Linked DNA regions of Homo sapiens: region 2 is linked to region 1. The links come from fine-mapping of genetic effects on gene expression. A gene starts in region 1. The other region holds a variant in brackets. All regions are shown on one strand. Distances are between the middles of the regions. Region 1 holds the start of INPP5K (inositol polyphosphate-5-phosphatase K). Region 2 overlaps INPP5K (inositol polyphosphate-5-phosphatase K).

Region 1 (2,784 bases):
TGGAGTGGACTGGGATGATCTCGGCTCATCGCAGCCTCCGCCTCCCAGGTTCCAGCAGTTCTCCTGCCTCAACCTCCCAAGTAGCTGGGATTACAGGTGTGTGCCACCACATCTGGCTAACTTTTGTATTTTTAGTAGAGACGGGGTTTCACCATGTTGGCCAGGCTGGTCCTGAACTCCTGATCTCTCAGGTGATCCGCCCGCCTCAGCCTCCCAAAGTGCTGGGATTACAGGCCTGAGCCACCGCGCCCGGCCAAGGAGTTTTTAAGTAACAGGTTTCTCGACATCTCTCTTAAGAGTCTATGCTCTATGTCTGCGTAGTATTCCGTGAAAAATAAAGAGTACTCTCTGGGGAAAAGTCATCAGTTGGATATTTTCCACCTCAGCTTACAAGTCTTAGGGAAGCAAGAAAACTAGATAAGGGGCCTCAATGACACTGGATCCAGTCAGAGGCTCAGGAAAGAGAGACCTACAGATGTCTTTAGTGGAACAGTCAGTCACAGCAGCTCTTCAAGAAGCCTCAGACTGTGCGGAGCACAGAGCGGGCAGGAGCTACAGACCCTGCAGAGACCAGGAACAGCCTAGCATGAGTCCTAGGCACACGATGAGGAGTACCTGCAGCAGCTGGAGATCTGGAATGGCAGAGGGTACAGGGGGATGGGAGAAAAGGGCAGTTAATGCCAAAACATCTCTCCTCCAACAGACCCCGTCCTTAGAGGTCGACGTTCTCAAAAGCACTTCAAGAAATTCTTGGCCAGTTTAAAGCAACTTCCTGTCCCTCCCTGTTAGCATAAACAACACTATACAGAAACCACCTTCCCAGGCACTCGGCCTGAGATTTTGAGCTTCATTTGTTTACGATCTCCCCCTGCTGTCCGACAGAGGCTTAAGGAACAAAGACCTTTTACTCAGAGACTTCTTTTCCCAGACTCACTCTAAGAGGATGGAGAGCAAAAGTCCGGATTTCTTGTTCCCACTCTCAAATCCGACGATTAGCAGCAAATCCAAGCATCGTGACTTAGACTAAGTGGGCGATTAGCGTTGTTCCCCGTGAAAGAGCAGGCAAGAGACCAGGCTAAGTCACTTCCCTAAAGGATCTTATCTCAATCTGATTTCGGATTCCCGGGGTTCACCATGGGATCAGGCAGACCTCCTGATGTATGTGCTGATGAAAAGTAGGAAAAAGATTTCTAACCGAGAGCCGAAGGGTGACGGCCTCGTTATGTCTTTAACCTCAAACAACCCCACACGGCTGTCCTCTCCAGAAAGCAACCGGGACACCTGCTGCGCCCCAGTGGGAACGAGCTTGGCGGCCTCGGCTTAGAGGGGGCGCGAGGCTCGGGCCCAACACAGCCCACCTGACACAGGCGTGGGAGAAGGCGAGAGCGCCTCTGAACCAAAGGCAGTCATGGAGGTCTGGTGCCTTGTCCACCCCCAGCCCGCAGCCCAAGGGGCGCCGATCCCCCCGAGCAGGCCTGCCTCTGCCGCCAGGGTGCCCTCACCTGAGCCTCCTGCCTTTCGGCCCGCTCAGCTTCCGCGAGCTCATGGCCGCCGTCGTCCCCGCGCGGTGGTCCGGCAGGTTCGCGTCTCCCGGCCAGCGGGTCCCGGCCAGAGCAGCCCTGCGGGCGGCCGGTCTCACGCGCCTAGCTGTCGCGGACTGTTTTTCTTCCGGACTCCGACCGTCCGCCCCGGCTTCCGTCAGAGACGCGCCCTCCGCGCACCCCGGGATCTGGGTGGTGCGGTTCGCAGAAGGAGGCGGGACTCTCCCACGAGCGCAAAGCTGCGAGAGGCTGAGCGAAGACGGGTTCGCGGACGTAAGAGGGGCGTGTCGGGCCTGTCATCAGCGCACGCGCAACACTGCCCCAGACGACGCGAGGTGTGCGGCCGCCACTAGACCCGGCCCAGCCCGCGCCCGCCGTCCGCAGCTCCCAGCGTGCCCCGCGCCAGGGGCCGTCTTCCGGCGGAAGTTGTCTCTTCGCCGCCGCCGCAGCCTCTGCCCCACTCGTGAGGGATCCGAGGGCTCCGTCCTTGTGCTGTCTTCGCCCCGGCTCCCAGGGGTCAAACGAGGGTCGGGGGTGGGGACACGCAGCCTAGCCACTGTCCTGCCTGGGATCCGGTCTCCCCCGCCCCCCGGCTGCAGGTAATCTCCCCATTCCTGCTACTGCGGGAGCGCCTCCGTTCTCCACGCCCACTTTCAGGCTTCTACTCCAAACTTATTGGATTACCTATTGCATATGGGACGTTTGGGGATTCCTGGACTCCTACAGAATTAGCCGTCAATAAATGAAACGTAGGCCGGGGCGCGGTGGCTCAATGCCTGTAATCCCAGCACTTTGGGAGGCCGAGGCGGGCGGCTCACTTGAGGTCAGGAGTTTAAGACCAGCCTGGCCTTAACATGGTGAAACCCCGTCTCTGCTAAAAACACAAAAGCTAGCTGGGCTTGATAGCGCGCGCCTGTTAATCCCAGCTACTCGGGAGGCTGAGGCAGGAGAATCGCCTGAACCCGGGAGGTGGAGGTTGCAGTGAGCCGAGATTGCGCCACTGCACCCCAGCCTGCGCGACAGAGCGAGACTTCGTTTCAAAAAAAAAAAATAATAATAATAATTAGCCGAGATGGGGTTTCGCCATGTTGGTCAGGCTGGTCTCGAACTCCTGACCTCAGCTGATCCACCCGCCTCGGCCTCCCAGAGTGCTGCGATTTCAGGTGTGAGCCACCGCGCCCGGCCTAAAACTACTTTAAATAAATGTTTTGCTTGTTTGGTAGGGTGGATAAAGAGGAAGATG
Region 2 (2,784 bases), 22 kb before region 1:
GCCCCATAGGCAGGGGCCTTCCCCCCGGCACCCTTCTCTCTCCCCACAGCTTCCCCCGCCCCGGAAAAGCTAGCAAGCCTTCCTTCCTTCCTCCGGGAAGCACATCTATCCAGAGCAGGCTCATCCCCGGCGGCCACACAATGGCCCTTATCAGCCGTGGAGCCAGGCGTAGACCCAGTGCACACCAGGTCTCACTTATTTCCTGTTTCCACCCAGTGGGTCGGGGTGGACCCAGAACGGCCATATCCTGACTGGGGCCCAGAGGACGGAGAGCACCCCCCATTCCCCTTTCCGCCTCTCAATCACTGCTGGGCTCACCCCTCCCACACAGGAGGCTGGGTGTGTGGCGACCTCAGTTCACCACGGGGGAGGTGAGCATGTGGGGGGACCCCTGGGGTCAAGCCCCGGGGCCGCATTAATCAGAACGGGGAGGCGGGTCTAGTGCGATACACTTTCTGCAATTGTTCTCCCACAGTAATCTTGAGAATAGGGACATCATCTGTATTTTACAGACTACTGAGACCGCTCTGCGGGTGGGTTCAGACCCCATTCCTGTTTCTGGTCCTGTGGGAAACCACAGGTGCCTGGAACTTTGAAGAGACTGTACCACTTCTCTGAGCCTTGGCTTTCCCATCTGCCCAATGAAGGGTGCCATGCAGTAACCCTCGTGATGGCTGTGCATGTGAGAAGGAACAGGTGGGCAAGTGAGGGCTTTGGAGGTCCCTAGGTATATGTGTTGGGGGCAGGGATAGGTTACCATGGGGGAAAACTCAGCAAGAAGGGGCTGAGGAGAAGTGGGGCAGAAAGAGAAGATGGTGGCATTCTGGACTGGTTAACGCAGGCAGAAGGCTCAACACCAGGGTATGCAGAGCAGCGGGTCAGGAGGGATGAACAAGAGCTCATTTGACTTAACAGAGTACATTAAGCGGCCACCGGCATAGATGGCATGCTCCACCTGGTTAGGGCCCCAGAGGCTCACCATTCTAGAACCTCATCCTAGCCCCAGTCCTGGCCACTTCTGCAAATCTCAGACACAGAAGTCTAGTTGGGATCTACAGGGTCCCTGTTCCTGGAATCTACAGCTAGTCCCAGGCCCATCACCGTACCCCCACCCCCCAATCATCAGTCACACGCAAGTGTAAAAGCCACGCTAATAATTACCCCTGCACAATGTAACAGTCACAAAACAGCCAGCCATGGCCTGCTGGAAGCCAGGGGACAATTCTTCATACACAGGCTTGCGGGGGAGAGTATGCAACACAGAGCAACTGGAGTAACCCTCAGTCCCAGGACACAGGATGGCAGGACAAGCACTGAGCAGGCTCCCAGAGGTGTCTTCTCCTGGGAAAAGGGCTGCCGAGTGACCATGGCGGAGGCAAGTGCTGGATGTGGGGACAGGCCATGTCCCCAAAGCCCCTAGAGGGTGTTCTCTGAAGAACCCCAGGGCCAGATCCTCCAAAATGTCTTGAGCTGGTTCTCCCTTCTGCCTGCCCCCACTCTGAGGTCCCGGGGGGTCCAGGGGGGGCCCGTCGTCAATG[G/A]CTCCTGACAAGGGTGGCACAGACGCACCTCACCTGCCAAGGACCACCCTGGAAAAGTCTGTGGCCACAGCTCCTTGACCACTTGTCACCCCTTCCTCAGATGGCAGGGTGGAGGCATGGGACTCAAGCTACCAACGGAAGCGAACCTGGATCCTTCCCAGTTCTCTCTGTCAGGATCTGGAACTTCCATGCAGTCAGACTCCATGCCGTGAGTAGGGAGGAAGGTTGTGCTGGCCGAAGGACCCTCATCAACCTGCTCATAACCATGGCGTAAGAGCCTGGCTAGAGGGGCCCCTCCATTCTGCCCACTGAGTCAGACTGCTTTTGCTGAAAGCAGAAATCCCAGACCCTCTGCTCACTCCTCACGGGGACAAGCTATGAGATGCCAAGACTCCTGGAATCCAGCACTGCTTGCACCAGTCTATGTAGCCTGTACAAATGTGAGCATCTCCCCTCCCAGACAGCCTGAGGCCCAGGACGGCACGACAAGAATGCAGGCCTGTGCCAAATGGGGCATGTGCCTGGCAGGACTACTTGGGCAAGACTAGAAGAGGGGGTAGGAATCCAGAAATGAGACGCAGAACTGTCCCCAGGTCTTCACTGTTGACACACTAGCTGGTTTCACTCACATCTCAGCAACAAAAACCTGTATTTAAGCGGCTAATTCCAGAGATGAGTAGTGGAGAGAGCAAATGAGCCTGGTTAGAGCTCACTCTGGGAGGAGTATGTGGACGACACTTGGCTGTCTCTTCAGGGGGCCAGGCTGGGCCCCCAGCACTCCCGGCAGTGGAAAGGCAGAGCTGGCTGCCAGCTCTGGCCTCCGCCTGGGATTCACTCCCATCCTGGCTCAGATCTGTGGCTGTGCTTCACCCAGTGGGTCCTCCCTCAAGGAGCCAGGCGGGATCTGCAGGGATAAAGCAGGTGGTGGAAATGGAGAGCGGGTCTTCCTCCGTGCTTTCCATCACCCCCGTTCCTGCACTGCAGCGGCCCCTCATGTACCGGCTGGCTCCCAGGCCTGGGCCTCAGGGAGCCAGTGATGAGCTCAAGCCCTCACCCTTCCCCTTCCCTCACCAGCACTGCTTACCTGGAAGGGTCTGCTTATCCCCACCACAGAACGCAGACTGTTGCTGTAGTAACAGAGGAGAAACTCATCTTCAGTGGTAGGGATATTGCTGATGTCGATGTAAACCTGGAGGGGGATGGACAGGACTGGGGTCAGCTCCAGGGCTCTGGGCTCCACCCAGCT

What was found.
Region 2: its variant is fine-mapped to the expression of INPP5K in whole blood (TOPMed, PIP above 0.99).

What each region holds. Positions count from the first base shown.
Region 1 is chr17:1,514,954-1,517,737 of GRCh38, forward strand. INPP5K (inositol polyphosphate-5-phosphatase K) reads right to left here and starts at 1,659. Exons shown (of 12, transcript NM_016532.4): 1 at 1,503-1,659. The coding sequence starts at 1,546. It overlaps PITPNA-AS1 (PITPNA antisense RNA 1), which reads left to right and starts at 1,966. Exons shown (of 2, transcript NR_028514.1): 1 at 1,966-2,140; 2 at 2,765-2,784. It overlaps PITPNA (phosphatidylinositol transfer protein alpha), which reads right to left. Exons shown (of 12, transcript NM_006224.4): 12 at 2,765-2,784. RefSeq lists a silencer at 1,745-2,044.
Region 2 is chr17:1,493,438-1,496,221 of GRCh38, forward strand. INPP5K (inositol polyphosphate-5-phosphatase K) reads right to left here. Exons shown (of 12, transcript NM_016532.4): 11 at 2,623-2,727; 12 at 1,140-2,442. The coding sequence ends at 2,386. It overlaps LOC105371483 (a long non-coding RNA gene), which reads left to right. Exons shown (of 2, transcript XR_934145.4): 1 at 1-188; 2 at 513-1,257. Among named protein-coding and RNA genes, the nearest start is that of MYO1C, 2.1 kb to the left of the region's middle. The variant G/A (reference allele first, on the strand shown) is at 1,539.